Linked DNA regions of Homo sapiens: all the other regions are linked to region 3. The links come from fine-mapping of genetic effects on plasma protein levels. A gene starts in region 3. Each other region holds a variant in brackets. All regions are shown on one strand. Distances are between the middles of the regions.

Region 1 (4,626 bases), 94 kb before region 3:
AAGCCATCTATAAATACACTCCAGAAGCTTTTAAAACAATGTAAAAGTGGCATCTGGCATGAGTAAAACGGCAGTTTAAACTCCTTGACTCGCCATCAAAATTTATGTTGAAAACTGTCTCAAACAACTGATTATTTAAAAAGATAAAGTCACGCTGTGTTGGTTGATTTTTGTACCATAGAAACTGTAAAGGAGCTGTATGTAGTTAAAGGGTACCAATGAAAAGTGAAAAGTGAAAACTTTCCAGTCCCTTGTATAATATGCTTAGGATTATCCAAATTATTTCTGTATAAGAAAGATTAACATTATCTACTATTCCTAATAATAATGCATTTTGTTGATTTTATGATACCATTATTTATACAACTTACTATGATTTCCTACCATTAAAAAGTTTTGTCAATTAAGTTTTAAGATGCAGTTGATGGCAAGATGCAGCACACTTTCAGAAACACCAAAATGTATGTTGTGAATTGTTAAAATATATTATTAACAATATTTTCTAGTTTTAATTTTTTTACTGTTTAATAATTCTGCCATTTAGGGGATGGTGAAGGTCCTGGGGAGATGTCATAGTCAGTTCAAACTGGACATTTTGCCTCAAAGCCTAGCTTGGAAAAGGAATTCTAAACTCTAGCTATGTGTTTCCAATTTATATTTTCTACATCTCTCTTCATTTTTACCCCATAGATCTCATTTTATAATAAGCATTTCTTTTCTTTTTTCTCCTTTTTAATATTCCTCACTTTGATTCACATAAAAAAGGTTTTCTAAAATTACGAAGTAGAACATCTAGCCAAATGCCAGTACTTTACTAGAAACGGTAATTTCACGGTAAGAACATTGGTGGGCAGTGTTTATGAGATCCCAACAATTAGTGGTTTATAAATAGCAGAGTTCTGAGGAGAAGATGTCAACAAGAATGGACAAGGAGAATTTGAAAATACGTGCAGTCAATTTACAAGGAGTCAATTAAAAACAAAAAAGCACTTGCAGAAAAATAGAATTAGGAGAAATTGTAGTACATTTGCAAAGTGAAGAGAGGTGCTGGCATGTTTTTCTTTCAGATTTTTTCTCTCATATAATGCCTTCTTAAACAGTGGGAGAATTAGAGACCTGGTGGTGTTGACTGGGGGGATTCTTTGCTACCTTCATTTACAATAACATATCCTGTTCCTAGAAAGCAAGAAAGGGTCTCTCTGGTATCTCTGCTATGCTGCCTCCTCAACTACTACTACTTCCTCCCCATCCATACTGAATATTCTTAAAATTTTCAGTACAGCCATATGCTACATAGCAATGTTCCAGTCAAGGATAAACTGCATATCTGACAGTGGTTGCTATCTGACAATGGTCTCATAAGATTAGAATACTGTATTTTTATTGTACCCTTTCTATGTTTAGATGGGTTTAGATACACAAGTACCTACCATTGCGTTATAATCGCCCATAGAATTCAGTACAGTAACATGCTGTAGAAGTTTGCAGCCTAGGAGCAACAGGCTGTACCACGTAGCCTAGGTGTGTAGTAGGCTGTGCCATCTAGGGTTGTGTAAGTGCACTCTATGATGTTAACACAGCGACAAAATTGCCTAACAACACATTTCTCAGAACTTATCCTATTGTCAAGTGACGCATGACTGTGTAAGTGATAAGGTGGGGAAGAATCAACCCTTCACTGCAGTGCCTGTTTCTCTTCATGTGTGCCTGTGTTCCACATGACATTATAGTCTAGACCTGCAGGTGGTCCTTTGAGTTTGTTGCATCATATAATGCTAAAGTAAGAAAATTTGGGAGAGTTTATACTTTGAGAATTCAATATGCTGTATTAAATTGTACTCACTGGAAATATAGGCTAGCTAAACTCTATATAAATGGTGTAGTTCAGGCAGATATTATGGTCTAATCTCTTTGAAATGGAGACTGAAATTGCTGTCTGAATCAATCACTTGGATTTTAATTTTATATTTTACAAATGTAAATAATTTTATATTTTCCAAATTTTACAAATGTTAG[TTAA/T]TAATAATAGTTATGTTATATATGAAATGGAGACTCAAATTCCAGTCTGAATCAATCACTTGGACATTAATTTGATAGTTTACAAAGGTTAGTTTATAAGAATAGTAATAGTAATAGACATCAAAATATCTGTGGCTCTAGTTTCTCTGTGTCTGCATTTTACACAACGTGTTTATGAATAAAAGTTTCTATAAAATGATTTATGAAAATTATCTACATTAGGTTTATCTCTTGTAGATAATTTTCATAAATCATTATGTAAATGATGAGTTAATGGGTGCAGCACACAAACATGGCACATGTATACATATGTAGCAAACCTGCACATTGTGCACATGTACCCTAGAACTTAAAGTATAATAATAAAAAAAAAGAAAATTATCTATATTTATTTATCCTGCAGTGTTGCTGTGTAGCAATGTGAGAAGCTGGGACTTCTAATCTAATCATTTTGTTCGGTAAATATTTTGTCATTCCTGTGAAGAGCCAGGGCTTGATACGGGTGAGCCAAGTCATATTCAGGTAGTAATATAAGGAAGATAACTGGGTGGTAAACTATTTAAATCATATCGTTTGTATGAAACCTCAAACTGTAAGCTCAACGGAATGTACCAGAGTATCTGTCACTATTTCCTCAGCCTGCTTTGTCAAGTGCAATTTCGTAGGTAAAAACTTTGGGGTGATCCTCGTGCCTCCATCATAAAGATGAAAATATAGCATGAATTATCTTTGGTGATAAAGAACACTTACCAAAATAGAGATGACTCAACTTCTACACACAGCAGAGCTGTGTTGTAATGGAAATTGGCTTTCAGCTTCTGAGACATGTAATTTTATAATACATTTTAGAACATTTAACCTCTCCACATTTTTTTCAGCTCTGTCTGCAATAGTGAGAGGTAGTGCTATTGTTACAGAGTCTGCTAAAGCTACTAATGTCCTATTTATATACAGAAATAAAAGGAAATTCTTCCTTCTCTGGTGGTCTCTTTCAGCTACTAAAAAAGTTGCTTGGCCTAAAAATGTCATCAGCCACAGGGATTATTTGATTTGCTTTGTCCATAATTGATTACTTGGCTTTTACCAAAAAAAGCACATCTCAAAAATGTCCAAAAAAGGAGAGGAAATATGTTCAATTCTATGTAAAAAATTTCTAAAAATTTTTGAAGCTGAAAGGAATGCCCATAAACAATCTGATTCCAGTCTTATTTTCAGTAGTCATGCATAAATCATGTTCTATGACACAGAGAGAAAGAGATTTTTTACCTAAAGTGGTATTTATAAGAATTTTTAGCAGACTGGGAAGAAGTCCACTTTAGCTAAATTAAAAAAAAATTCACCGACTTCTATATATTATGAAGTGGTTTTGAATTCTATCTTTACTATTTATTTGAAATTTTCTGAGCAAAGTACTCTGTCTCATTGATCCTCAATGTCCTCCTATACAAAATGGCAAAAAGAACACATCCCCATTTCATTGAAGTGTTGTGAGAACCAAACAGGCTGAAATATCTGGCCTGTTTAGAATATTATCTAGCACACCATAAGCACACAATACAGGGTGCCCATTATTCATGTGACTTATGTAAATTGCAGGAAATATTAAAAATATTATTATAACGGGTTTTGTTTGTTCATGCTTTATTTACAGTTTGTGCCACCTGTTGATCTGAACTGAAGCAGGAAGGAAAATAGGGTCTGGAGGCAGGGAACATAAGGCCCATTCACACTTCAGCTATGACAGGAAATATCTGCTCCAGAGGGCATAGGCCAAGTGAACGACTTTGTGACTTTACTTCATCCTCTCCATTTACATAGGGCGTACCCCGAGTCACCAATGGAATCCTCTAGGGGGTATTTAAACTCCCAAAAATTCTGTAATGGGGCCTTTTGAGCTCCTATGCTCAGGCCTGCGCCCGCATTGTGGAGGGTATTTTCATTTTTAGTAAATCCCTTTGTCCTTGCTTTGTTTGTGCATTTTGTCCAATTCTTTGTTCAAGACACCAAGAACCTGGATACCCTCCACTGTTAACAGAACTACTGAACTTATTGCTAATATGTTAATATATTATTGAAAATAGCCTATACATATGAGAGTAAGTAAATACTTTGATCAAGCCACACAAAATTATCCGAGGAAACAAAGTGGAACAGTTATGGTTTAAGGTAAAATAATGTAAAACAATATCAACAGTATGTATGTCTATGTGATTGAGAAAATGAATCTTGTATAGTAAGGATCCAGAGCAGTAAGATAATACCTGTATCAGGAAGGAAATGCCACTCCGTTCAATTCTCAAGGGCAAAACTCTAGTCAATCCTATCACATGTGCACCTTCTTCTGCCCTGACATCTGCCATGTCTTATTTTGCATAAGCCATGGTGAATTCTGTCAAATCACCCAAGTAATAACATAACCATCTGAAACATTAACTGAAGACTTTCTTCTGACATCGGCTGTCACACTATGTGTGAATCAAATTTGCTTCATTAAAATAATTTGGGTTTTGTTCTGACTGCTCAACATTGCCATTTGAATCTGTGAGCAGCCTTATTGACTCTTAACCGCTATTACCAAGTCTTAATCGCTCAGAGATTCAGCACAGT
Region 2 (4,626 bases), 340 kb after region 3:
TTTCCCACACATTTATCTGTGGGAAATGTGAGAAATGTTAGTAGACGCATATCATTTTATAAAAAATTCCTGAAAATAAATCTGTCTATCAAGGTAGACAGTAGGTAGACTCTGAGGCTGATAAATATTGACAATTATGTGATTTTTTTATGGTTGTGAATCAAGTTGAAACAGGACTATTTGCCAGTCCTGTATTGTTTTGATTTTACTAATCAAGTAGTTTAGCTTCCTTTCAACTTAATCCTTGGAAATTCATTGAGTTTCAGGAAGCTCTACATGTCATACCATTCACCATTCCCTGACCCTTCAATGCTGCAGATAGACTGAAGACTGTCATATCGCGATGATCACACCAACTTCATTTTTGAGAAAACTGAACTCATCTCAGTAAGGTTCCTCCAATCACAATTGATATCAGAAATCTTCATTGGATCATGGACTCTTCCACCATCATTTCAAGAACATCAAAGCAAAGTTTCAAAGATTCTTTTGCTCCCTTTATCAATATATGCCATATGCAAATTGTGTGTGTGTGTGAGAGAGAGAGAGAGAGAGAGAAATTTTCAGAGTCTGGAAGAGAACAAAGATTGGACTCAGTGTAAAGATAACACATAAAAAAAGAAATCAAATATTCTAATCTGAAGATTTGCTAGTCATTATTCTATATTACATTAAATTATGTATAATTTTCTAATATCACGTAGCATGAGCCAGACTTTGGTTAAGATTTACATTATCTAATTCAGCCAATGGAAATAACTATAGCTGACTTTCCAAATATGCTATTAAATACAGAATCATTTTGCATGTGTGTGCATAAATATGTACACATGTATAAGCATGCACATCTATAGCAATGAAATAAGCCCTCCAAAATTAATCTTCTTTAATCGAGAACTGTCAATATTGTGCCGGCAAAATTTCTCATTTTTAACATGTAAATTAGGGAAGTTTTATAAATCCTTTTAAAATGTGACCTTTTTTTCACTCCAAGGACCATATTGAATTATAATTCTAGTTAAAATTTAGTGGAAAAAAAAGATTGAAGAACGGAGAAAATTGTTTATGCCTTCCAGTATAGGAGAAGCTAGAGTGATAATTTCAGGAGTTAGGATTAAAAATGGGAGGAGGGACAGTAAGTTTCTGATGATACACACTCTCTGACATATCATCGTTCAATTTTCCAGTTTTTCCAAAACAACATTCTAGCATGCATCAGAGAAAAATAAAGCATTTGTGAATTTTAGCTAGGGATGTAATTTGTTGCAGTTTCATGTTCTAAAATGACTTTTGCCAGTCTCAGCCCCATGACTACAAGAGCAATCCCTGCAAGAGGAGCATATGAAAGTCGACATTTTATTCTTTACATGAGGTAAAACTTTTGAGAGTGAAAATAGTCACCCTATTATTTTGAGTTGTTTAGAAATATCAGAAGCAGCAATCTAACCCTGCAGTCTGATATTTCTCATGTTTTTCAGATCTTTGACGACAGATTCCTTTGTTTGCTAACAACTTATCCCAGTTTACTTGAGTAAAAAAGAAAAAAATGTTTTATTGGAATGTTATTGGAGTTACTGAGAACTTAAAAGCAGTGAAAAAACAGAAAAACAAAAACAAAAACCCCAAGACCTTAGCCACAGGAGCTCCTAGAGATTTTTTTTTTTAGGATCTGTTCTAATGCAACTCAGTGCAAAACATCTTCTATATACCGCTCAGCTCAAGAATCAGTTTCCTAAGAAAAACATCTGATTACCCTGTATTAAAATTTTGCCCTTGTGTCCATCATCCCAGACTAGAAATACTAGAAAAAGTGAGGAGTCTGCAATTAACTATCAGGTGTGTCATGAGCATGACTGCCCTCTGAGTTGGAAGGTTTTCAAAACAGAGAAAAACTCACAAATTAAGTTTCAAATTTGGCCAGTTTCCTGATCACTGCACATATTGATATATAATATTATAATAAGACTTTTCATATCCAAAATTTTTCTACCTCCCAATTCCTAAAGCAACTTACTTTACTTTTTCTATTTTTTCTTGCTTTGAATCACCAAATATCTTCTACCCTGACATTTTAAAAGAACCAGGTTTTTATTTAATAATTTAAAAGCTCTGCCTTTAAACTTTTCTATATTATTGATTTATTATATTTTATCCCTTATTTTACTTCCTTTATGTAAATTTACTTGTGTTTTTCCATATTTTTATATTTCATATTAGTTCTCATTTTTAATGAGAATTTAATTTGATGCTAGATACATTTTTTTTCTTGGAG[T/A]GTAGCGTGGTGTTTTGTTGGAATTTTGTGGGAGCCTTAGCAATTTCAATTCTGATATCTTTTTTTCCCATGGATTTTAAGAAATTTTCAAGGTAGAGTTGGAAAGTGGACAATAGAAGGTCTATTCTTTAATACCAATTTTTAGTTATAATGCTTTGTTGTGAGAGGAAAAGACCTATTGTATTTTTTGTGTGTATAGAATTTATTTTCCATATGCAAAATTTCTTTTTGTCTTAATTAGTAGAAAAAAGTTATAAATTACATGAAGGCTTCATAAGAGTGTTCTTTCTTTATTACTGAAATATTTATATAAACATTTCTTACCATCAATATGTACATTTTAATGCTTACAACGTCTAGTTAGTTTCATGTATTTTTCATATATTTACTGAGAAAAAAATGATTTCACTCATATACTTGTTTTTGGTTGCTTTTAGTTTGATCAGGCCCAAAATCCCATCCCGAAATAGCTTTCTAAATTCAGTGTTTTGGGGTATGTCAGTGGGCTATCAGTGCATTCTACATGTTTCCTTGGCGAGCCACCTCAACTATTTGAAAACATTTGGAAAACTCTCCAGTCAGCCTCTCAACTAATTCTGAATGCTGTCTACATCACACACACACACACACACACACACACACACACACACAACTAGTCATCAAAGCTAAAATTTAGGATCCCTCCTTGCCTGACCATCCAACTGTGAATTCATGGTCCTGGTTATTGAGGGTAAGTAAGGGTGGATGTGTGGGCAGGAGGCACAGCTGACTAATAGCTAATCAGAGAATTGCATGGTAGCCCATTTGCCCTTGGTATTTCCTTTAGAAACCCATAGGGGGATAAGGAGGATTCTCCTTAAATCTAGTCACGTTTGCTTCTTCTTTTCTCCACTATCCCTAGCGCGTAACCAATGATTTTTTTATCTTTTACTCCTCTGTATCATGTTCTTTTGGGTTCTTGGATTTAGATTAGTCTTGTTAATGGGTTAGAGTGAAATATGGGATTATCAAAACATCTTTTGTTCCCCATAAATATATACACCTACTATGTACCCACAAGAATTAAAGATAGACAATTTTAAAACTAAATGAATAAAATAAAATTCAATATGAGATTAATTTATGAAGTTCCTCTCCAAGGTCAGTAGTTGATGTGTTAAAGAAGAATACTGGGAAATTGAAAAAAGACAATGCTCATTTTACTATGCATTGAATGGAATACTATTCAGACTTAGAAAAGAATAATCATCAGTATTGCGTCTATTTGGTAGTTCATCCATAGTCTGTCTAGTAAGGCTGCTATCCTGGTTCCTAATCATATTATTGAATGACAGACGCTTTTCTCCTATTTTTTATTTTTCATAAAAATCTAATATTTCTCTAGGCATTACTAGCATGTATTCAGTAATAAAATATGCAAAATACATTAAATATTTAAAAGATTTACTTTTAAAATAGTAAAAACGTTTGATTTTAATATTCTTTTCTGTTCATTGCATTTCCTCAGGAGCTAGTTCTTCTAATGTTACATTTGTATTTTCTTTTTTTCCTCAAAGATGTGATGATTCTTATTTATCTAATCACATTTCTAGATGAGTTTCTACGTTGGTTAGTGTCTGTGGTGAGAAAGCACTTTCTGAGCTCAAACAAGTCTATTTATAACCAGGGTGACCACTTTGGACAGCAGTTCTGCTTCAGATAATACTTTTAACCTTGTACAGAAAGAGTCAATATGGCAGGCCTAAAGTATTATATTAATACTTGGCTTACATCTAGGAACTTGAATTTCAGGAAGTTTCCACCATTAACTGACGAGTGCCTCATCATGCCTGCACTGTTTATGGAAACAATGTGGTTTATGCTAAACAACTTCTTTACTTCTAGGCATCTGGAATTGGGTTATATGCCAGGCATGATGTGCCAGTATGATCAGGTTCCAGGAAAGAATCTCTGAACACCGAGTCTCTAATGAGCTTCCCAGGTTGACAACATTTCACAAGCGTTGTCAAAACTCATCGCTGAGGAATTTAAGGGCATCCTGTTGTAACTGCATGGGGAGAAGACTCTTGGAAATGTGTGCCTGGTTTTTTCCAGAATTTATACCTTGCTCCTTTTCTATTTGCTGGTGGTGCTTTTTATCTTTTTGTTGTAAGAAATCATAGCCATGGTTACAACTGTATGCTGAGTCCTGTGAGTCCTCCTTGTGAATCACTGAATTTGGAGACAGTCTTAGGGATCCTGACACAGAGCACTAATTCATTTTTGTTTTCATTTATTGATTCATTCAACTGAAGATTAGATAGTATAAGCATGTGCCCCAGGGAAGCTGCTGCATTTAATATTAATAAACAAAT
Region 3 (4,626 bases):
CAAAATATCACCACACATTTTCCCCTGAACATTAGTAAACATGGCAGTTTGCTCTGCCACTGTTTGCAAGTTTACTCTGTGGAGAAAAACACTAAATATCTCCTGCTGGTTGCATTTGCCGGGAGAAAATAAAATTTTCTACTTTTGAATTAAGGACAGCTGCTATTTTTACCTATATTCACGCACGTTGTTTTTCAGAATACTGTTTAATTCAAAACATGCATTCTTGTTCTCCTCTTCCCCTCCCCCTGTCTCACCCTCCTCCTAGCCTCTAACCTACCTCCCTCAGTCTTTTCAGGTGCAAGTGAAAAACACTAAGTATTTAGCTACGGTTCCTGCTAATTGCTTTGTCACATGTCAAATGTGTTTTCTTCTCTGCCCCACTGAGTCACCTATCTTTTCTAAAAAGGCTATCTTTTTCTTTCCTCCCAGTTCTTCAACTGCCTTCTAATACAATCTTACTGGGAAACGAGCATCCGGACATGCCGCTGCAGCGGCATCAGAAGCAATAGTCACCGGCCTCTACACATCCTCATTGCCTAAAAGCACAACAACAAGACTTCAGATTTCTTGCCCACAGCTTGCTCTCCTTTCTCCATATTGACAAATTATCCTCATTAGGATTCATAAACACATTAAAACTTTTAAAAATGTATAATAATATAGGATTCATTTTCCTAGAGGTGGAAGAGAGTGCCGAGATATAAGTGAAACGCAGCTAACATTCCCATGTAACATCACAATATTTTCTACTGAACATAAAAGAGAAAAAAAATGCAATTTCTTAATCCTGATCTCTGGTTAGAATATTAGTAACATTTGCCACACATAAATACTGCAACCCAATCATGCAGGTAAAAAGGCTTCTGCTTAGATAACTGCAGTTTAAATGGGTGCAAGGCTCCAGGCAGCTACCTACTTGAGTAGGACTGGTCAGTTCTCAGGCTCTAATCTTATCTGCATTAGGCTGCACAGTAGCTGATGCCCGCGATTAGTTCCGGCAGAGTGATGCAGGTAGGGATGCAGATACAGCCGAGTAGGTGAGCTCTGCCCCAACCGTCTACCCAATTACAAGCATCTTTCGCCTACACTGAGGACACATCTAAACACAGAATTTACAATTGTGCATGCGAAACTTTACACTTACGTTAGTTGCCTCAACCTTTCCCCTTTCCCAGTATGCTGCAGTTAGGAATGATTTGTTCCAACACATAGAAAGCCATGCATCTGGTAGCACCAGTTTGGGGAGAAATCAGAAGCAGCAAAATGTTTCCTCCTTGTAAAATGTGTTGCTTCGGGCTGGCAAATTAGCAACTCCAGAGAACAAATTCACGGATTTGTCGTTAGTCATTCTCTCCACATTTCGTCTCTCTTACCCACTGGGTCTGGGTTCTTCTGGGCATTTAGCACACACAACACATAGTTGCACTTCTTCAGCTCAGGGATATTTTCCACAGCAGCATGCATACCATTTCCATCCGATGCCAATACTGCTTAAGTCTCTAACTTCTTGTAGGAAACGTCAGAGTTGCGGTGATGATGATTCTCTGACAGCTATCCGGGTGACAGTTGCCCGAAAAATTCCTAATCGGTTATCTCTTGCGTGCTTCAGAGACTCTGAGGCGCTCCTTTCCGTCTCGCGTGCTCTCCCTCTCTCCCTTCCCCTCTGCCCCTCTCTCCTTCTCCCTCTCCTCTCTCTGAACTGAATTTCTTGATATAACTCTCAATAAGCCCAGAGGGAGGGCGTGACTGCCCAGGCCCCGCCCCCGGGCTCTGATTGGCCTGCATCTTGCGGCGCGGGCGGCCGCAGCCCGGCGCGAGGGAGGGAGCGCGGAACAAGGCGCTGACTGTCTCCCAGCCTCCCCTCCTCCGCGCCCCCTCGGCAGCAGCGAAAACCCGGAAATCTGATCCTGGCCCCAGGAGAGCCGGGTTCCATGAGGTGCACTGAGCATGCTCTGCAGGGTCCGGCGTGGGAGGGACGCGCTGGCGCTCCCCAGGCCCGGGCGGAAGCGGCGCTCGCAGGCGCTGAAAGCGAGCGACCCTCTGAGCCCGGGTGGTCCGGCGGGCAAGGGCGGCGCGGGAGACCCGCAGGGCGCGGGCGCGGATCCGGGGAACCAGGGCCACCGCTGCGGGCGGATGGGGGTCACCGAGGCGGCTCGTCTCCAGGCGCACACTTCGCACATCTCTTTGCTAAGTGAAGGGGCCAAAATGCACAGATGGGGGAGTCTACCCAGGAACAGAGGCGCGAGACGTATAGCCACCCCTGGGTTGGGAGCACGAGCCAGCAGATCCCCGGAGCGCGTTAAACGGACAACATGCCCGGTGCTGCAAATAGAGGCTTTTGCTGGCAGGGACATTGGAAAGAAGGGCGGAGAGGGAGTACAGCGAAAGGTGGGGACCGCAGAATTTGGAATCTCTGCGGAGACCGGAAAGAAAATTAATCGGAGCACTTCCTACATGCAGAGCCACGGAAACTGCCTTGGAAAGAGAAAGTGGCAGCGTCTGGGTCCCCTCGGTCAGCCCGGGCCAGTCGGCTGCGCGTGCGAAGTCTCCTCTAGCGGAGCGGGACCGGCCGCGGCGGTGGATCGTGGCGGTCCCTGCACTTCTGCTCCAGCCGCGCCTGGAAACCTGAGCCCGGACTCGCGGCTGCTGCAAAACCCGCTTCCAGCCCACCTCACTGCGAACTTTGCTTCCGAGGGGCTGGAAGGAGTCCCAGGCAGCTGTTTCCCAAGCTGTGGAACACTTCCTTTCCCCTAGGCACTTTCTGCTGATTCCAACTTTCTTTCCTGTGATTTTCGTCTTTTCCCGTGCATTTCATTTCTCCGACTCCAGCTCTGTACTAAATCCTCACAAGTTTCTCGTTTTCATACGGGAACTGGATGGAATGACTCCCCAAAAAATACAGCTTTATTTCTCAAATACTGACCCCCAAAGCACTATCTAGTAATATATTTGATTGATCTTTCAAAGTCAGTAAACCACAAAGGTTTGTGTAATGGCTTGTACTTAACGCCTGATACCTGAGTAAAGTTTGAAGCATTAACATAGGAACAGTTCACTTGGAACAAAAATTTATTTTCTGAATGACCTATAAAGGTTGTCAGAGAAGGTCTTAGTACATGATTGAATAACTTGGTCTAACTTACAGGAAGAATAAAGGGCATTTATTTTAAACCTGTGTGTTCCCCATTCTATAATGGGCTGCCTAGGCATTAAAGGCTCTTGACATACTTAAGCTCTTGACTGAGGGCGTGTTGGAGATTACCCCTTGTTTTTGAGTACAATAGTTTTGTTTGCTTTTTTTCTTTTTTAAGTAACATTTGTTTTTAGACGTTTAAATGAAAAGTAAAAAAAAAAAAAAACACCAATCAAGCTTACTAAGCCATATATTGAATAAATAATGACATGATTTAACCAACTAATTTGACATCACAATTTTCCAACATGAAATTGTAAGCTCTTTTTAATTCAAACTTTTCTGAGTTAATATTCACAGTTCAACTGCAGTGTCTAAAAGCCCACTGTAAAATCCATTAATCCCTTATATGTAAAATATAAAATACTTTCCTTGCAGATAATAGACTGATATTTTTTAAATAGCAAAGCAACTTTTATTATAGTAATATTTTGTATGATTAGAATATATAAAATTCAAGAATAGAAAGGACTTACAAGTATCCCAAAGTGAAAAGAAAAATATTGCCTCACAGAATAATGTCAGTGAATGAAAGGATGATTCTTTTATCTTACCACAGTAAACGATCATTTTGCCATTCACAAAATCTACAATTAAAGCTAGTACATTGTTCCAATTGTCACCTATTTTATGCACTGCACTGTTTTTAAATAAATGAACCATCATTGTGATACATTTACAATAAACATAGCAGCACAGCCACTTTCCAGTTCATTTCATAAGCACCACAGTTATATCATATTCTTATTCTAATCATACCGTAGTCATTTCAAAGTCATGTTGTAGTCGCAACACATAGCTTAGCAATAATTATTTAACATCATTATTAAACGGAGTTGTTTCTCTTTGCTAAGGATAGCTTCACGTGTTGGCAGAACCCATTATTACCTCCTGCTCATAAATGAAATCTTAGTTTGAACACAAGATGAAGGTTAGAGAAGAGAAAAAAAAAATCATCACATGATTCAATTAATGACTATGAGACTTCAATTAAAGAAAACCACAGGTCAAAGCCCCAGAATGAAATATGTCTAGATTCTTTTCAAAGGAGATGGAGTTTCAGAGACAAATAGAGCTATGGACTCAGGGCATTATATCCTTTAGGTGTTTATTTGGCATTATCTGAACGACTGAGATTCCTTAATGTTCTCAGTTTTACCTCTTAAATCTAGAATAGTTGAGGCTGGTTTGCCCTATAATAATCCGACTTCTAAACTCTAAAATGAGAACTATTATTAGAGATCTTATTAATATTCCTAGAGGAAAATTAAATATAAAGGGTCATATTCCTAACCCTGTGTTATCACAACTTAAGGTTTCTTCCCAAAACACTATATAAATCATTTTCATAATGAGAGCTGTTCATAATCTACCTCTCCAATATTAATTTTTTAAGTTAGGTCTGTGTAATTATGAATCAGGAAAATATT
Region 4 (4,626 bases), 79 kb before region 3:
TCCGTGCAACATCTGCCTCCCAGGTTCAAGTGATTATCCTGCCTCAACTTCCCAAGTAGCTGGGATAACAGGCATATGCCACCACGTTCAGCTAATTTTTAAAATATTTTTAGTAGAGATGGGGCTTCACCATGTTGGCCAGGCTGGCCTCGAACTCCCGACCTCAAGTGATCTACCTGCCTCAGCTTCCCGAAGTGATGGGATTACAGGCATGAGCCACTGTGCCTGGCCCATAATTTGAGTTTTAATCAATACAAAAAGCCCAAAGTGTTGGTTTCCATACAAGTCAGAAAAAATCAGTATTAATAGAGAGTATTAATTTTATTAAGCCACATTTTGACTGCATTAGTAGGTAAAAAGGATGGAAAACTAGGACATCTTAAACAAATGTTAATCAGAAATATAATCATTAGTTTTCATATTCATTTCAATGGCCCCAGGGTGTTCCCTCATTCAATCCGTTGGTTTTGCCCTAATAATAAGTATTTTAAGTCATGTGATTCTTAAACACAATACATCCAAAACATGTGCCAATAATTATATCCAGAAGTGAGAACAATAATTTCTAAATAACTAGAAAACCATTTGCAACTAACATAAACTTGTTTTAAATTTACCAATAAAACCACTGGCAAATAAAGTAACTTGTACTCGCCCTTTGTAAACACAGGTGTTAGTGGTGTTCCCTAATCTAATAGAACTCCAGGAAGACTGTATCTTTCCACTGCACTACTATTGGCAAGCACAGTTAGTCTTTAATCCCTTTTAATCCAACCTACATATACAACAAGATTAGCTTTCTTGTTTAACCAACTTTGTAAGTCTCACTGCCCAAGGCCTTCCAATTGCTTCCCACCATCCACTGCCTAAGTAAACCTTAGTTTAGTCTTAATCATAAGACTAGATTCAACATGCACCATATATGAATTATACTTAAAATACTGTTCCCTCTGCCCTCACTTATTTTAATCCAGAAAAATTCTCCATCTTTTTCAAAGTCCAGTGGAAGGCTCATCCTCTTCTTGAGGGTCTCTTTGGCCATTTTATTCAAAACTCATCATTTGATGAGTACCAATAGCTCCTTTTTTAAAAAAAAATCACATTCATGTGTTTTATCTCTGTACTATCTTGAAATAGGGCCATTTATTGTGATTTCTCTGCTACTAAAGTCAAACTGATAAGTAGGGATGGAATTGTTTCTTAACGTTTGTATCCCCCAATTTGTTCCTCTTTAGGGATATTAACGTTTAATGCAATGAAAGAACATGACCTTATTTCCTACAGCCTTTGCACATCTCTTCATGGGTTTCTGGTTGTGGGTGTCTGTGTCTGAGATGCAAAAAGCAGAATTGGGTTCTACTGGTAAACTCAGAGCTCCTACTTCTTTTATTGTTTGCCTGAAAAAAAATAGGCATAGTTTTGACTTAGGTAGGGGATCTAAGAGTACTGCATCATTCCCAAATCCAACACTGTTAGAGTTAGAAGATCCTGTATGATTCAAGCACCTGGTTTCACACAGTGACTAAGGATGGGGAATATATCCCTTCTACAAGCTGGCAAAGCTTTTGCTCTATACTTAGAGGAAGAAAAAAATTCATCTTTTCAATCTATCAAAACTGAGGCACATAATAATTGAGAGGAGAAACTTATCATTATGCTCAGGGACTTTATGCTTTTGAGGCCTCATAAAGGACTCAGGAAGTATCAGCCCTTGTATAGCTGCAGGCAACATCTCCACCCAATTCTAGGCCACACTCATTTTTAAGGCACCAAAGCTCAAATGCACTCAGGGTCCTTGCATCATCATTTTGCCTAAAGAGAGATAATTTTTTTTTTGTTACAAGACTATATGAATGAACTAAAAGACTCTTAAGGATACTTTCTCATCTCATAAAACTCTCATCCCAAGTTACATGAGATAAACTGAAATAGTATTTTACAAATTCCTCCAAATTGTATCTTCTTATAGCTGAAGAACTTACAAGACTTTTTGTGTCCTATTTGTTCCAAGAATTGTAAATTTTACATGAAATAAAAGCATAATCTGCCTTTTGGAAGTGAGAACATTCCATACACCCAGAAGAAACCTGTATGTTTTACTGTTGATAGGAAACGGAACTCTGCCAGGCAGTGAACTAATGAATTACAATTTGGCAGCGCTCCATGCCTGATACAATTTAGTTCAAATTTATGAAATCCACTGGTTCCAGAAATCCACTTGTGCCTAAGGCCTCTCTGTACAGCTCAGAGTAAAAAGCATGACATTGCTAGACTTCTGATTTTACCTTATTGATAAAGAAAAATTTACAAACAACAGATTTTTCAACCTAAATCTCTGAACATTTCTTCAATTTTTCAACAACAGTAAATCAGTTAAAATCAGCATATCTTTGGTAGATAGCAGAATATTTCTCAATCTCTCATTAAATCGAATCCCCTTAGACATAGCTGACCTACACATCTCAAGAAAATGTCTGCAGCCT[C/T]ATAATGACTGATGCCCTTGTGGAAAGGAAGGAATATAAAGCTTGTTCAAAGGCGTGATGTCTCATCCTTATATTCTTTAAACAAAATAGCCCCCACTTTTTTTTCCAAGTGAGGGAAAAAGAGTAAAGCCTCTTGATTCATATGAAGAAAGAATCATCATTACTGCTACTTAAAACTCACGTTCTTTGGGCAAACCTCTTTAAAAATCACACTGAAGGAGTAAGAATGAGGAAGATGAGAAGGTTTTATGTTTTTAATACCTAGGAAGAATAAATCTAGGATGGTAATTAGAGGAATGAGGCTTAGGCCTCAAGGAAACAATGTTTTCTTTCTAAAACGCATAGAGGGTAATGACACTTCCTATGTATCCCCCGCCCCAGTGAAGAATTCCAGACACTTCTCCAACTAGCCCTCATCACTCCCACCTGGAAGTGCACTCATTCTCACTTCTGGGTTTATGGACATGCTCGCCTCTCCCTCTTTCCTGCTTGCCCTTGGATACCTGGATGGCCTTATGACCCAGTCTAGGCAGCCTCTTTGTAACTCCTCTCTGACTAAATTAGTTTTCCCTTTCACAGTTTTTTTTTTTTAAGATAGGGTCTCTCTCCGTCCTGCAGTCTAGAGTGCAATGGTGCGATCATGGCTCACTATAGCCTCAAACTCCTGGGTCCAAGCAATCCTTCTGCCTCAGCCTCCTCAGTAGCTGGAACTGGAACTATAGGCATGTGCCACTGCACTTGGCTGATTTGTTATTTTTTTTTGCAGATATGGTGGTCTCCCTATGTTGTCCCAGCTGGTCTTGAACTCAGGGCTCAAGTGATCCTCCCACCTTGGCTTCCCAAGCGTGGGGATTATAGGAGTTGGCCACCACTCCCAGCCCACAACATTTTAAAAACAAGTATCTTATAGCACTTTTCACAATACACTTAACTTGTTTAAACATATTTTCTGTTTTTCAGATTATGAGCCTCTCACCTAGAAACGTCTGTTTCATAACATCTATGGATGTCGTTTTCACCTTTGTATTGTGTGAAATGCCTTACACATTAAGGGCATTCCATATGGTTGATGGAAGTTATATACTTAAGCAAGTTTCTAAAAAATAGATACATTTTAAAACCCTTTAGTATCTACCCTCTTTGCTAACTTAGAGGTTTCTACTGTGATTCTTTTATTCACAGTTACAGGAGGTTTACCATTTGCTGAAATAATACATTTACAGTCTAATAGGCACTGATGAAAAATGTAGTTTACTCTGAAACAACTGAATTGCCAAAGGAAATCATGTTGCATAAATGACAAAAGCAATACCAGTCTCATCTGGGCTTGCGACCTTAGAATTAAAAAGACACAAAATGAATATACGTGTATACTTTGGCACCTTGCTCGAGGCATATATTGTTTTGTGCAACTAACTTAAGGAGAATTGGTGAATTGAACTGAAGACAAGTGTAAAGGAAAAAGAATAAAAATAAACAGAAATTTAAAATGGCAAAAACTCTTCCTCCTATAAGACAAAAAACAGTACATGTATATAAGATAATTAAGCACTAGTTTAGAACAGGTAAGAAAAGATTCTATAGTCAGGTGTGGTGGCTCATGCCTGTAATCCCAGCACTTTGAGGGGCTGAAGCAGGTAGATCCCTTGAGCCCAGGAGTTTGACAAAAGATATGTAATAAGAGAATGTGATGAAATTAGATAAAAAGAAGTGATTATAGGCCAGATGTGGTGGCTCATGCCAGTAATTCCAGCACTCTGGAAGGTGGGTGGATCACCTTAGGTTAGGTGGATCGCCTGGGCAACATGGCAAAACCTCGTCTCTATGAAAATACAAAAATTAGCTGGGCACGGCGGTAAGTGCCTATAGTCCCAGCTATTGGGGAGGCTGAGGCAGGAGGATGATTTGAGCCTGGGAGATGAGGCTACAGTGAGCCACGATTTTGCCACTACACTCCAGACAGGGAAACAGACGGAGACCCTGTCTCAAAAAAAAAAAAAAAAAAAAATATATATATACACACACACACACACACACACACACACACACACACACACATACAAGATACTCTCTTTTTTGATAACTTATGTTGTGTTAAGTAATTTTGATCTGTAATCTTTTTTTTTTTTTTTTTGAGACAGAG
Region 5 (4,626 bases), 470 kb before region 3:
TTATTTTATTTTAATTGACACATAATTGTGCATATTTGTGAGGTACAATGTGATGTTTTAATACATGTATACACTGTGTAATGAATAGAACATTCCTATTCAATAGAACATGATAATTTATTCCTTCTATCTATCTGTAATTTTAACAAGTGGTCTTCTTTTTTGGTTGTGTTTTTGTCTGGTTTTAATATTAGAGTAACGCTGGTATTAAAAAAATAAATTTGCAAATATTTTTTTCTCTTCTATATATGAAAGCGTTTGAGAATAATTGGTATTAATTATTCTTTAAATGTTTGATAGAATTCAACAGTGATGCCGTCAAATTCTGAGCTTTTCTCTGATGGAAGACTTTTTACTACTGATTCAGTCCCCCTTACTCCTTACTGATCTATTTAGATTTTCTATTTCTTCATAACTCAATCTTTGTAGGTTATATGTCTTCAAGAATTTATCCATTTCTTTTTGCTTATCCAATTTGTTGGCAGGTAATTGTTCATAATAATCTCTTACAAAACTTTGTGTATTTCTGTGGCATTAATTATAATATCTCCCTTTTCTTCTCTGATTTTATGTATATGAATCATCTTTTTTTTCTTAGTGTAGTTAAAGATTTGTCAATTTAGTTGACCTCCTCAAAAAGCCAACTCTTTGTTTCATTAATCTTTTCTATTTTTTAATCTCTATTTTATCTTTTTCTCTGATCTTTACTGCTATCAATATTTACTTTACATATGTAGCTGCTCTGAAGTTGGGTACGTATATATTTACAATTGTTATATCTTCTTGCTGAATTGGACCCTTTATAATTACATAATGACCTTTGTTTCATTTTACAGTTTTTTTTACTTAAAGCCTAATTTATTTAATTAAGTAAAGGTACTCCAAATCTCTTTTGGTTGCCATTTGCTTGGAATATCTTTTTCCATCCCTTGACTTTCAGTGTGTGTACCCTCACAGGTGCTGTGAGTCTCTTTTTGGCAGCATATGGTTAAATCCTGTTTTGTTTATACATTCAGCCACTCTTTGTTTTGATTAAATAATTTAATCTATTTACATTAAATCTAATGATTGGTAAATAAGGACTTACTATTGCCATTTTGTTAATTGTTTTCTAGTTATTTTAGAGATCTTTTTTCTTTCTTCCTCTCTTGTTTCTTTCTTCCTCATTTAGTTTGTTTCTTTGTATACCTCTAGTAACAGTGCTTTCTTGTTTTTTACTTTTTGTGTATGTATTCTAGAGTTTTGCTTCACAGTTACCATGAGGCTTATAAAAACATTTTATAGCTTATAAAAACATTTTATAATTTTACTTGAGTCCTTCCACTTCATTTTGAATTTTTGATGTTATACTTTACATATATTTAAATTGCATGCCCTTTAACAAATTATTGTGGTTATTAAAATTTTGAATATTTTTATCTTTAAATCTTCATACTAAAGATATTAGAGATTTACATATCACCATTATAGTATTAGAATATTCTAAATTTGACTGTGTAGTTCATTTTAGCAGTAAGTTGTTCTGTGCTCAGATGTTTTTGTGAAATTCATTCATTTAATTTTCTCTCAGATTAAGTAACTCCCTTTAGCAATTCTTACAGATGTGGTGGTGATGAACTTCCTAAGCTTTTGTTTTTCTGTGAAATTATTTATCTCTCCTTCATTTCAGAAAGATAGCTTTGCAGGATATAGTATTTTTGGTTGCCGGTCATTTTTTTTCCCCCTTCAGCAGTCTGCATATATCATCCCATTCTCTTCTGCCCTGTAATGTTTCTGTAGAGAAGTCCTCTGCTGGACATATTAAAACTCCCTTTTATGTTATTTGCTTCTTTCTCTTGCTGCCTTCAGGACCCTATATTTGTCTTTTATCTTTGAAAGTTTTTGATTATAATATGTCTTGAGGTAGCTTCATTTGCATTTAATCTACTTGATGTCTTTGGATGTTGAGGGAAGTCAGGGACCCCAAACAGAGGGACCGGCTGAAGCTATGGCAGAAGAACATAAACTGTGAAGATTTCATGGACATTTATGAGTTCCCCAAATTAATACTTTTATAATTTCCTATGCCTGTCTTTACTTTAATCTCTTAATCCCGTCATCTTCGTAAGCTGAGGATGTATGTCACCTCAGGACCCTGTGATGATTGTTATCTGTACAAATTGTTTGTAAAACATGTGTGTTTGAACAATATGAAATCTAGGCATCCTAAAAGAACAGGATATCAGCGATTTTCAGGCAACAAAGGAGATAACCATAAAGCCTGACTGCCTGCGGTGCCAGGCAGAACAGAGTCATATTTCTCTTCTTGCAAAAGCGAATAGGAGAAATATCAC[T/G]GAATTATTTTTCTCAGCAAGGAACAGCCCTGGGAAAAGAATGCATTCCCAGGGGGAGGTCTCGAAAATGGCTGCTCTGGGAGTGTCTATCTTATGCAGTTGTAGATAAGGGATGAAATATGCCCTGGTCTCCTTCAGCACCCCCAGGCTTGCTAGGATTGGAAAATTCCAGGCTGGTGAAATTCTAGTCAGACTGGTTGTCTGCTCCTGAACCCTGTTTCCTGTTAAGATGTTTATCAATGACAACGTGTGCCCAGCAGGACATGGACCTTCATCAGTAATTCCAGTTTTGCCCTGGCCTTGCAATCTCAATCTGCCTCTCTGCCCTTGTGATATTTTATTGCCTTGGAAGCATGTGATCTCTGCGACCCACACCCTATTCGTACACTCCCTCCCCTTTGAATATCGCTAATAAAAACTTGCTGGTTTGCGGCTTAGGTGGGCATCACGGAACCTGCTGACATGTGATGTCACCCCCGGAAACCCAGCTGTAAAATTTCTCTCTTTTGTACTCTTTCTCTTTACTTCTCAGACTGGCTGGCACTTAGGGAAAATAGACAAGAAACTATGTTGAAATATTGGGGGCTGGCTCCCCCAATAGTTGGACATTCCTGTACCTGGATATTTATATTTCTCTGGGTTTGGATACATCTATTCTTTTTTAAAAAATAAGATTTCTACCCCCTTTATCTTCCTCCGCCCACTCTTGAATGCCAATCACTTGAAATTTTTTTCTTCTGATGCTGTCCCATTAATTCTGTCAGCTTTCTTCATTTCTTTTCATTATTTTTTCTCCCCTGACTCTATGAGTTTAAATAACTTGTCTTTGAGTTTAAAATTCTTTCTTCTACTTTATCAATTCTGCTGATAATATGTATTGCAGTTTTCATTCCAAGTATTGTATTTGCAGTTTTCATTCCAATTATTTTATTTTTCATCTCTAAGATTTCTGTTTGATTTTTATATAAATAAATAGCTCTGTTAAATTTCTAGTTCGGATAACATTGTTTTTCTCATTTTGTTTATTGTTTCTTTGTAGTTCTTGAATATTGGTGAGCTTCCTTAAAAAAAATCATTATTTTGAATTTATTATCAGGCAGTATATACATCTTCATCTCTTTAGGATCAGTTACTGATACTTTATTTTGTCCATTTGGTAGTGTCATTTTCCCCTAATTATTAATGATCCTTTTGTTCATGTGTTGATGCCCTACACATTGAAAAAACATTTTTTCCAGTATTTGCAGTATGGATTTGTCTGAAAATGCCTTTCAACAGTAAGCTTGTCCAGAGATTCTGGGCAGGTTGTTTGGTGTGGTCCCTAAGCCTATGACTCCTGTAGACTTTTCAGTGGTAGGTAATGCCCTTCCCTCAGAACCACCATGGTTGGTGCAGTGCGATGCTGGAATTCCATGGCTGCTGAGGCTTTCACATTGCCAGGGTATATCTTCAGCCCATGGCTGCTAAAGCCTGCCAGTTGCTGAGGTTTGTACAGAACCTATGGTGACTGCACTTGGCTGGTGATGATGCAGGCCAAAGATTTTGCAGGGACTATGCATTCCCTCCTAGCACTGAGACAGGCCAGGAGGCTAAATTAATGGACACCAGCCTGAATTCAGAGTCCATAGGTGTCTGCCTGGTGCTAGGTTTTACTGTGGTGGGCCCAGTGTTAAGGACCAAGGCAAAATCCTGTGCTCACTTCCCATCTTTCCTCAAGCTTATGATATATTTCTTTGCATTGCACTTCCTGGGTTGGTGGAGGAATTAAACAGGTAATGTAACACTGTCATTCTTGCCCTTTTCAGTTTATTTTTTCCTGTCATTATGCAACAACGAGGCACTGTAATCTCCCAGCTGGTTTCCTTACCTCTTGTCAGGTAGTTTTGTGCATGTATAGTTGTTCAAATTGATGTTTTGGTTGGGAGAATGGCAATCACTGGAAGTTCCTATTCTACCATCTAACTCGACTCAATCCTAAACAGATCATTTCTAGGTTGTATATATTGAAATGTATTTATTTGATATTATGAAACATAGACTATACCAGGTTATTGAGTCAGCTGATATTATGTGAATATCCAAATTCATTAAGATACAAGTCTCAGAGAAAAAAAATTTAATTTATATACACAATGAATCAGTTCATATTTAAATTCAGAAAGATTCAAAGCAAGCGTATGGTAAATCATTTTTCAAAATAATAAGACTATTTTTTTTTGAGATGAGGTCTTATGTTGCCTAGGCTGGAATGCAATAGCTATTGGAAGGTTCAACAATAGTGCACTGCAACCCT
Region 6 (4,626 bases), 170 kb before region 3:
TTCAGAAAAATAGGATATATTCATTTTCTTTCTTTTAAGAGGGAAGAGAAGCAATCCAGAAAACATGCATTAAAGCTTCCTAATCAAGATCAGCTTTTATTGTTAAAAAGTGCTAAGCAGAGCCTAAGAGGTGAAATTATGATGGTATTAGTACTCTATATTTACTTAAAGGTTATGCAAATCAGGATAGTCTAGATTATGCTGCAGAAAATAGCCCCAGATTCTTAATGGTTTAAAGCAAACAAGGTGTATTTCTTACTCATACTACAAGTCCATCTCAGGTCAGCGGGTGGCTCTATTGTTAATTGTACTCACTTTGTGGTCTTAGCTGATGGAGCAAGTACTACCCGTAACATTGCTGGTTGCTATGGCATAGTGAGGTAGAGAGTTCTGGACAATCTCCCGTAAGCAATTACATGCTCCAGCCCAGCAGGGATAAACCTCATACCAGCCCACAATTCATTGTGTACCATTCACAAGGGACCATCTACCACAAAAAAAGCCAGGAAGTATAAATACCAGAAGCAGCAGCTGCCATTTATTAAGGTCCAACTACATGCTAAGCTTGGGGAGGTGCTTTAACTACTTTGCATAATTTTAATACTTACAATAACTCTTGCAGGTAGATATTATTAAAATTCCATTTAGCTTACTAAATGAATCTGAGGCTCATAGAATTTAAAAAGCTTTCCAAGGCAAAAAAAAAAAATGCTACCACATTCTGATTCTGATAATGGTCACCCTCCTTTCCTCTATACTATACTGCCGATTTGCCAATGAGGTCTCACATGCTTTTTAATTCGTTGCTTTAAAAACAATAGCAAAATGCCTGTTTCATGCATAGAGCCATTTGGGTTTGATTTTATACTTTATATAACAAAACGTCTGTGAGCAAATTAATGACATAGAGCTAAGACATGGTTTTAATAGCTTATTTATAGAAAAGGAATGAGCAGCCATAACACAAATGTGCTCAAAGTAGATATTGTTTCTATTTCTTACAACACAAAAGTGTACAACAAATAGGTTGCAGAGTGATAGGTACTATGAGGAATTGATATGATATTTATATAGTGTCAAGAGTCCAGCCTATAGGAAAATTGTAGAGAGAGCAAGAACATTTTGCATAAATTATTTAATAGAAAAAAGAAATAGGATACTCCACTCTATGAATCCCCTCTTTGCTTCTTTTCTTTGCTTGGATAGTTCTCCTGGCCTCATTGTTAACCTCAGAAAATTGTCCCATCTGGTCCCAACTGTTAAAGTGCTGGAGACCTCTGTTGAGCAGCATCTTCAAAATTGCCAAGTGTTCTAACTCCCTGATATTAGAAAACAGTAGACTGGAAAATTACAGGAGATTGGTTTCCATAGACCCTTGTTTACAACTGTAGCTTGTAACTAGACAGCTCCAACTCATTCTATGGCAAGTGGTTTCTCAGAAAATTCTCTAGATCAGAAAAAAACAACCTGTGCAGCGAATTTTAAATCCTATTTATTCCTTCCAAAATTGCTGCATTTTATAGAGACAATCAGCCTGCGTACCAGTGCAAGAGCCTAAAATATTTTCTAGATTTAATATAAACATTACAAACAGAGGAAATTATTTAAATGGTATAAAATAATAAGGAATAACTATTTTTAAAAACCTAACAATCAGTTAGTGCTTTTATCATATCAAATGCATTAAACTTCTCTGAACTGAAGTCTTTTCATCATAATGTACTAAATTAAATATCTGTTCCTTGTAGAATATGATTCTGCTAAACTAGATTAAAATCAAATCATGGACAAAATCAATTTTACTTACAATAATCCTAGCCTACTGAGACTCCAGTCTAGTAATCACAATAAATGTCTCTCCTCTTTATATTTCTTCTGCAGTTCTGGACATTCCCAAAAGATGGAATTTGTTGACATTGCACACATTTTTAATGTATTTTATTAGAGTACTATGAAAAGAAGCAAATGACACATTTCAACAATCCCTTAGGGCATTCAAAGGGGTAAAGTATATGTATTTTTGTATCTGTGTATGTGTGTGTATCTGCCTGTGTGGAAATAGATAGATAGATAGATAGATAGATAGATAGATAGATAGATAGATAGCAGAGAGGTAGACAGATAGACAGATATTTATACATATATCTCCAAAAATGGAACCTGAATGAACCTAAG[G/T]GATTATTTGATTTAAGAGAGAATGCCAAATATTTAAACTGTCTTGGGGGAATTATGGTGACATTGGATCTTAGGATTACTTCTCACATAAAACTCAGAGGATTTGGTATCTTGTCAGAAAACTAGAGTGAAGCATGCTTACATGATGTTAATCATGCATTCCATCATTCTTTTATTGCAAGCCCACTAAATGGTGACAAATCAAACTGAAAAGAAAAACGAGCGTGTTCTCTGCCATGGCTGAGCATTTTTTTAAAGAGCACACTCTAAGAGCTCAGCTTTGGTCATTTGCCAAAGAAAAGTGTTATTTTATTAGTCTAATTTTAATAGAATACATGAAAACAAATACTTGCTTATCTTCTACTTAAAGGTGCAATTATTCTTTCCCAACTTTTTTTCAATTCTCTAAAATTACATTCTAGTTTTAGATATCAATTAAACTTCAACTGCAGTAAAACCCAGTGAGATAGAATTGAACTTGGAAGCTGATGAATCATATTATAATGATACATGTTAGAAACCTGTAATGGCTAAAAATTCTATTAAATACACCATAATAGTATAGTTTAGAGGATACTTGTACAACTTGGGTTAATTTTAATTTTGAGCTTCAAAAATTCTGCTGGAAAATATTGTCTACCACCACCACTGGTTTTGAAATGAAGAAGCTGTGAATCAAATAATTGGCAGGAAAATTATAAAGCCTTACGGTTAGTAGGGGCAGAGCAGGTTTTACTGCAGGGCCAGTAGTCTTTCACTTGAAATGAAAAATAAGAATTTTGCTATTGTCACTCCTTTGGTGGCACTTTGATTTTATATCTAAGAAAGTTAAGACTATGCTTAAAAGTCACATGCTAATTAGAATATTTAGCAATCACGGTGGGAAAGAAAAATCAGTACATGTTTTGAAAGACTAAGATTAAAAGATATCATGATTCGAAAAGAGTCAGTCTCCTACAGTGCTAGTAAAAGTAAAAGCTGACTCAAATTTTCTGGATAATATGGCTTTAAAAATCACATGCTACAATATGTGTTTCCTTCACTAAACACCCCTACCTTAAGAAATTTAGTTTTCAAAAATGATATAATGTGTGTGCTTGATGATGTGAGAGTTCAGGGTTGTTTCTCATAGTATTTTTTAAATGGAAACGATATATTTGTGCATGTTTAGCCTATCAACTCAGTGGAATGCTTAACAGTCATTAAACAGCAGGCCATAATTTGGGTCAGCTTTTTTTTTTTTAGACAGAGTTTCACTCTTGTTGCCCAGGCTGGAGTGCAATGGCACCATCTCGGCTCACTGCAACCTCTGTCTCCCGGGTTCAAGCAATTCTCCTGCCTCAGCCTCCCAAGTAGCTGGGATTACAGGCGCCTGCCACCACACCCAGCTAATTTTTGTATTTTTGGTAGAGACGGGGTTTCACCACGTTAGCCAAGTTGGTCTCAAACTCCTGACCTCAGGTGATTTGCCCGCCTCAGCCTCCCAAAGTGCTGGGATTATAGGAGTGAGCCACCGCACCCGGCCTGGGTTAGTCAGTTTTAATACCCAAAGAGAGTAGAGAATGCATGGTTCAATTTAAGCCAGATATGGAGAAACCTTCTATTTTTTTAAATATATGACTAAAATAAATGCTTAAGAATTTTTAATGAGGCCTTTCATACAGAATTTTTTTTATTATATTAGTTTAAAATTCTAGGGATTTTATCAGTGTTTTTCTTACTGCAGGAATAGCAGATATAGTTAACATGAAATTTAATAAGTCACTTCTTACTTTTCCACATTAGCAAACATCTAATAATTTTTCCTGTATAACCAATTCCAGTATGTCCAATTTGGTTGCAATTTGTTCAAGGACATATATTTCCCTAATCAGATTATATGCATATGCACTTATAATTTTCCCTTAATATTATATTCAGAACAGACACAACACATCCATATGAAATGCACGGATCTATATCCTCAATAGCATTGTTGCCTATTAACAGTGTAGAACTCTGCTTCTAAGAGTGATAAATGACTAGGGCCTGGAAACAACCTAGGGCTGTCAGGCTTGCTGCGGTTATTTGATGCTTTTCCTCTTCTCTTTTAAACCAAGAATTTTAGCTGAAATTTTTCATTCCTATTTCTAGCCATCCTACTACATGCTATATTTTCCTTCAATTTAATTGTGGGAGAAGGTGTCTGTGTTAATGAGCAAAGAACACAATTGGCAAGTTCGACACTAGAATCACTCAGTAAGAAGTATGTATGCCACATATATAATTTTTAATACTAACTAGACATAATTTACTAGTGACAAGAAATAGGCAAAATAAATTCTAATAATATATTTTACCCCATGTATCAAAAATTGTATCATTTTGATATGTAATCTATATAACATATTATGAATGAGATATTTCCATTTTTGTGTACTGGCTTCTGAATTACTTAGAGACCATCTCAAT
Region 7 (4,626 bases), 48 kb before region 3:
ACGAGCGGAGCCAACTTTGTGAGCTGCTCCTAAGTCTTGTGTCATTGTGATTACCCTCTAGGCTTTTCTATCTATTGCTCCTTCTACCTTCAGAATTAATAGATTGGGAAGATTAGGTCAATTGGCATTTCTGAGGCAAGTCTGAATTAATTTTCTTTGGCTTGTCTTGTTGAATTTCACACTCCCTGAACATTTCTCACTGATAAGCAGATTATGATGCTGGCTCATGTTCAGGGATAGCAATCCAAATGTATTTACAGAGTTGTATTGTTACCTTTTAGCACCATCAACTGCAATAAGCATTATCGTTTATAAAGTTAAAGCTCTTCATTTTAAATCTGTGTCAAGAGGCTAATATAACTGTGATTTTAATTACTAAAAATCAATTTCAAATTAATGTGAAATTTAACAGTGGGAGATGTGTCGGAACCCAGAGACAATCAGCTTGGCCTTTACCTTAGGTGCGGTCCTCTATAAAAGGCATTAACATAATGCTGGTTTTCTAGATCAGTGGTTTTCAAACTAGTGTCTATGAAAAGCTTAAGTCAAAAGAGGAGTTCCTGGGGATTTATTATTGAAATTTAAGTCATGGTAAATCAAACTTGCATATAGTGCAAATAATTTTTTTTCAACTTTCTACTTAAAGCAGCTGCATAGGGAGAATAATCATAAGAAGCTATCGGTCTTAGTTTTTAGGAAATCATTGGTGTCATTAAGCAGAGCGATTTCATAAGCCGTAGAGGAAATTCATATCACAGGAGGTTCAGGAGAGAGAGGAGAGAGGAATGGGTAGAAAAATCACACAGACCGTTTTCAAAATATGTTTGTGAAATGAATATCAAGACAACTAGAAAGCAGGGAAGGTTAAATTATTTTCTAACTTGCTAATATGGTATGACATAATAATGCTTTGTAGGTACAGTGTAATGGAGGTGATACAAAGTTCTGTGCACATATCCTAAACAGGGAAAGAATTTCAGTGGATGCCAGCTCTATAAGTGGATATGAAATCAAAGCAAAGTAAGTGAATCTTGGAAAGAAGGAGGGACAGTGTAATAGAGCTGTTTATTTAAAAATTACCAAATGGACACAAAAGTGACTAAAAATTAGGCCATAAAAAAAAACACCACTACAAAATAAGTTGTTTCTACAACCATTCTTCTCAAGATACAAGCAATACCTATCTTCCAATGGTTTATTCTCTGTCTTCTAACACCCTCGTGCCTCCTCAGCAACATTTAAACAGCAAATCACCTTCTTTTCAGGAACATTTTCTTCACTTAATTTCTAGGACACTACAGTCCCCAGTCTGGCCTTCACCTGATTGACCAGTCCTTTGTGTCCTGTGGTGGTTCCTCTCCTCCTGCCTCTGAATGTGGGCATGGCTCAAGGCTCTGCCCCTGGATCTCTTCTTTCACTTGTTACCAACATCAGTTTCAAGTTTCAGGGCATTTAAACAACACAGTGATGGGTCTCAAATATGTATATCCTGCTATATCCTCCTTCTCAGGACTCATAAGTTAAACTACCTCCATAATATTTCTATTTAGATGCCTAGTAGACATTTTAATCATCCTGCCTAAAACAGGACTCTCAGTTTTTCACCTGAATATGTTCCAGACCTAAATTTCCCAATTTCCCCTGTCATTAAAGTGAAAAAACATGGAGTTGAGAGGTTAGACACAAATCTTCTCTTTCCTTCACACCCCAACATCTAATCTGTCTACAGGCCATATGGGCTGTAACACATATGCAGTACATATCCAAAATCTCACCATTCTTTACCACCTTTTTTCGCTATATCTTAGTCCAAACTATCATTATATGTATTATTATTTCACTCTTTCCTCACTAAAGTCAGTTCTACACATAGTAATCGAAATGTTCTCTAAAAATAAAAAAAAATGAAAATCATAGGTCAGATTAAGGTATCCCTCTGCTGAAAACTGTAAGTCACTTTTCTTCCCACTTAGGATGCAATATAAATCTTTACTGATTAAATCAACTGATCTCTGTTGAAAAATTTACACTGACAGTAAATTGTTACCACCCAGACTTAAGAAGCCATTGGGTGAAAGAAGTAGAATAGCGTTTACTAATTCTTCCTGGAAAAATTAGGAGATGGATAAAATTTATTCTGGGGTACCCTCTTCCTTTACATGCCACTCTGCCTGTCCCCAGGTGTTCTCATTATGCCATAAATTCTTCACTACTATTCCTAATTTCCATGGAATGTTGGAAGGATCAATGTAGGAAGGATCTAAATTCTAAAATTACTATCTTTTCAATCTCCTGAAAAAGGAAAATGAACAAGAATGGCCCTATTACCTTAGTGCAATTTTCTTAGCTAGGTGTTGGAAGGAATAATTGTAATTAATTAATCTATAGATTGTAAGGATTTCTATGACTGTTACTACTACTATAGACATTATCAATGATAATAAAATAATCATAATAATTACTACTATTTTATGCCTGGCACTTTAAGTACTTCTGAACTTCACTACCAAACACTGCAAAAACTAAGGATCAGAGAGCCTAAAGTTTTGCCCCCAAACTAGAAAGTAAGC[A/G]ACTGTCAGGAATCAAATCTATTTCTACCACGTCCAACCATGGACTCCTAACTATTAAGAAAAAAAACACAAAACTAAGCATGTGAAGTGGAATTTGGGGTAGTGTAGGTAAATATATTTTTGAAAAAGTCTGCTATGAATTGGCTCCCTTTCAAGTTCCTGCATTCACAAGTCTGCTTCCTGTCTTTTCTTTTGAATCTATAACTTCAAACTATGACTCCAAATTTATCTGTAACTCCAAATATCTCAGCTGCTATTTTTATTATGTTTCTCTTGGGTCTTTGAGATATGGTTAAAGCAGAGTACTCAGAAAAGTGTGAATAAAGACAATCAGTTTAATTACAACACTTTTGTATATTATACATTTTATTTTTTAAAAAATCAAAACCAAAAAACCAAATAAGATATGATGAATGTTGTTTAAGGTAAAGGACCAATGGTGTTTAAGCAATGTTGATATTTTTTACTTTTATAATGAAAGATCACTGTTATATTTTAAAATAATAATTTAAGAAAATTTGGAAAAACACTTTCAATGATTAGAAAATAAGATTTAACCTGTTTACGACTGAGGTTGCAATGTTTTGAATTTTTGCATGAAATTTACATGTGTTACCTAGAAAAATTCAAGGAACAAGAATTTAAAAAGAAAAAAAATATTATGTCCCTTTGGTGAGTTACGTGGCATTCCAATAATGGAACACTAGGCATATTAAGATGCAGATTTGCAGTAAATTTTCAGACATATTTGCAAATCGTCCTATGATCATTCATTGATTCTTCTGTTAAAAGTATGTTTATGAGAAAACTAGTATCCTGAATGTTGCATTTGCGTCTTTTAAAACATCTAGTGTTTGCGGTATAAATTTTCTATGTTTCATGCGCAAAAAATAAAGAGAATAGTGTCTCTTTCCTTAGTCTTTACTTCACAACCACCTGATTAGTAAAAATGTAGGTTATAACTTCCTTCAGATGCTTGGTGTCTAAACCATTCTATCAAATGACACAGGGAACAACACTGGAAATTAAGGCATACAGCTTGTTTAACAACAAAACTTGTGAAGGTGAAGGTTATAATGAAAGAAAAGGAGGTAAGTTCCTTTTCATGCCAAAAATTCTGTGCTAATTCTGAATCATGTTTGCCTTTTGACTGTGTGATAATCTTACTAGATCCGCATTCAGATCTCTGTGAATTTATGGAGGTACAGGTTTCAAAAACTAAGGGTAGGGCCCAGGCATGGTGACTCATGCTTGTAATCACAGAACTCTGGGAGGCTAAGGCGGGCAGTCTCCTTGAGCTCAGAAATTCAAGACCAGCCAGAGCAATACGGTGAAACCCCGTCTCTATAAAAAAATAACAAAAATTAGCGGAGCTTAGAGGCACACAACTGTTGTCCCGGCTACTTGGGGGGCTGAGGCAGGAGGATCGCTTGAACCCAGGAGGCTGAGGCTGCAGTGAGCTGAGATCGCACCACTGCATTCCAGCCTGGGTGAAAAAGTGAGACCCTGTCTAAAAACCAACCAACAAACAAATAAAACCCTAAGGGCAGGGTGAGGGGTATTGATGTATTGGATCTTAGTAAATAAAACCAAAAATTCTATAAATAGTGCAGTTTTTCACTATTTTCTATTCACGAGGAGTGACCTTTTCTGACCTGTCAAAAGATTATTCATCCTTCAAACCTCATCTTAATACATCCCTTTTTGGTCCTTTCTGTTGACTGCGATAACTTCTTTCACAGAATCTCCGTACTACATAGGCAAGACTTGTCACATACTACCTTTGATGAGAATTGCTTGTCTACCATTCATGTAACTCCTATACCTAGCAATGCCCTGGAGAGCAGTGAGTGAATGTTGCACTAATATTTGATCTACTAGAGAGCCTGGCAATTAAAATAAATATATTGTTTGTAGTCCATTAGAAAAGAAGGAAAGAAAATAACATCACCATCAAGGATATTATGTTTTGTTATATTCTCATGTTATACTTTGTTTAACAATGTTTCTGCAATGTAGATTTTTACTCTCATTGCTTAATTTTAGGTATTCTTTC

Alleles and levels. Positions count from the first base shown, and alleles are read on the strand shown. Strength reflects both the effect of a copy and how common the allele is.
As copies of TTAA replace T in region 1, the plasma level of the protein whose gene starts at base 1,704 in region 3 goes down (moderate association).
For the plasma level of the protein whose gene starts at base 1,704 in region 3, allele T in region 2 goes with a lower level than allele A (moderate association).
With allele T in place of C in region 4, the plasma level of the protein whose gene starts at base 1,704 in region 3 is higher (weak association).
For the plasma level of the protein whose gene starts at base 1,704 in region 3, G is the high allele of the variant in region 5 and T is the other (moderate association).
For the plasma level of the protein whose gene starts at base 1,704 in region 3, allele G in region 6 goes with a lower level than allele T (weak association).
As copies of A replace G in region 7, the plasma level of the protein whose gene starts at base 1,704 in region 3 goes down (weak association).

The links. PIP is the posterior inclusion probability: the model's chance that the variant is causal. The UK Biobank Pharma Proteomics Project read protein levels with antibody pairs (Olink). The fine-mapping took linkage between variants from a reference panel, not from the people measured, so its PIPs are less certain.
Region 1: its variant is fine-mapped to the plasma level of the PCDH9 protein (UK Biobank, PIP above 0.99).
Region 2: its variant is fine-mapped to the plasma level of the PCDH9 protein (UK Biobank, PIP above 0.99).
Region 4: its variant is fine-mapped to the plasma level of the PCDH9 protein (UK Biobank, PIP above 0.99).
Region 5: its variant is fine-mapped to the plasma level of the PCDH9 protein (UK Biobank, PIP above 0.99).
Region 6: its variant is fine-mapped to the plasma level of the PCDH9 protein (UK Biobank, PIP above 0.99).
Region 7: its variant is fine-mapped to the plasma level of the PCDH9 protein (UK Biobank, PIP above 0.99).

The regions. Positions count from the first base shown.
Region 1 is chr13:67,134,743-67,139,368 of GRCh38, forward strand. All of the region lies in intron 2 of PCDH9 (protocadherin 9), which reads right to left. Among named protein-coding and RNA genes, the nearest start is that of PCDH9, 93 kb to the right of the region's middle. The variant TTAA/T (reference allele first, on the strand shown) is at 2,017.
Region 2 is chr13:67,570,581-67,575,206 of GRCh38, forward strand. No RefSeq gene overlaps it. Among named protein-coding and RNA genes, the nearest start is that of LINC00364, 200 kb to the left of the region's middle. The variant T/A (reference allele first, on the strand shown) is at 2,273.
Region 3 is chr13:67,228,633-67,233,258 of GRCh38, forward strand. It overlaps PCDH9 (protocadherin 9), which reads right to left and starts at 1,704. Exons shown (of 5, transcript NM_203487.3): 1 at 1,148-1,704. RefSeq lists a silencer at 1,975-2,114.
Region 4 is chr13:67,150,106-67,154,731 of GRCh38, forward strand. All of the region lies in intron 2 of PCDH9 (protocadherin 9), which reads right to left. Among named protein-coding and RNA genes, the nearest start is that of PCDH9, 78 kb to the right of the region's middle. The variant C/T (reference allele first, on the strand shown) is at 2,484.
Region 5 is chr13:66,758,425-66,763,050 of GRCh38, forward strand. The region is part of intron 3 of PCDH9 (protocadherin 9); the gene reads right to left. Among named protein-coding and RNA genes, the nearest start is that of PCDH9-AS2, 64 kb to the right of the region's middle. The variant T/G (reference allele first, on the strand shown) is at 2,334.
Region 6 is chr13:67,062,834-67,067,459 of GRCh38, forward strand. The region is part of intron 2 of PCDH9 (protocadherin 9); the gene reads right to left. Among named protein-coding and RNA genes, the nearest start is that of PCDH9-AS4, 74 kb to the left of the region's middle. The variant G/T (reference allele first, on the strand shown) is at 2,176.
Region 7 is chr13:67,180,648-67,185,273 of GRCh38, forward strand. The region is part of intron 2 of PCDH9 (protocadherin 9); the gene reads right to left. Among named protein-coding and RNA genes, the nearest start is that of PCDH9, 47 kb to the right of the region's middle. The variant A/G (reference allele first, on the strand shown) is at 2,571.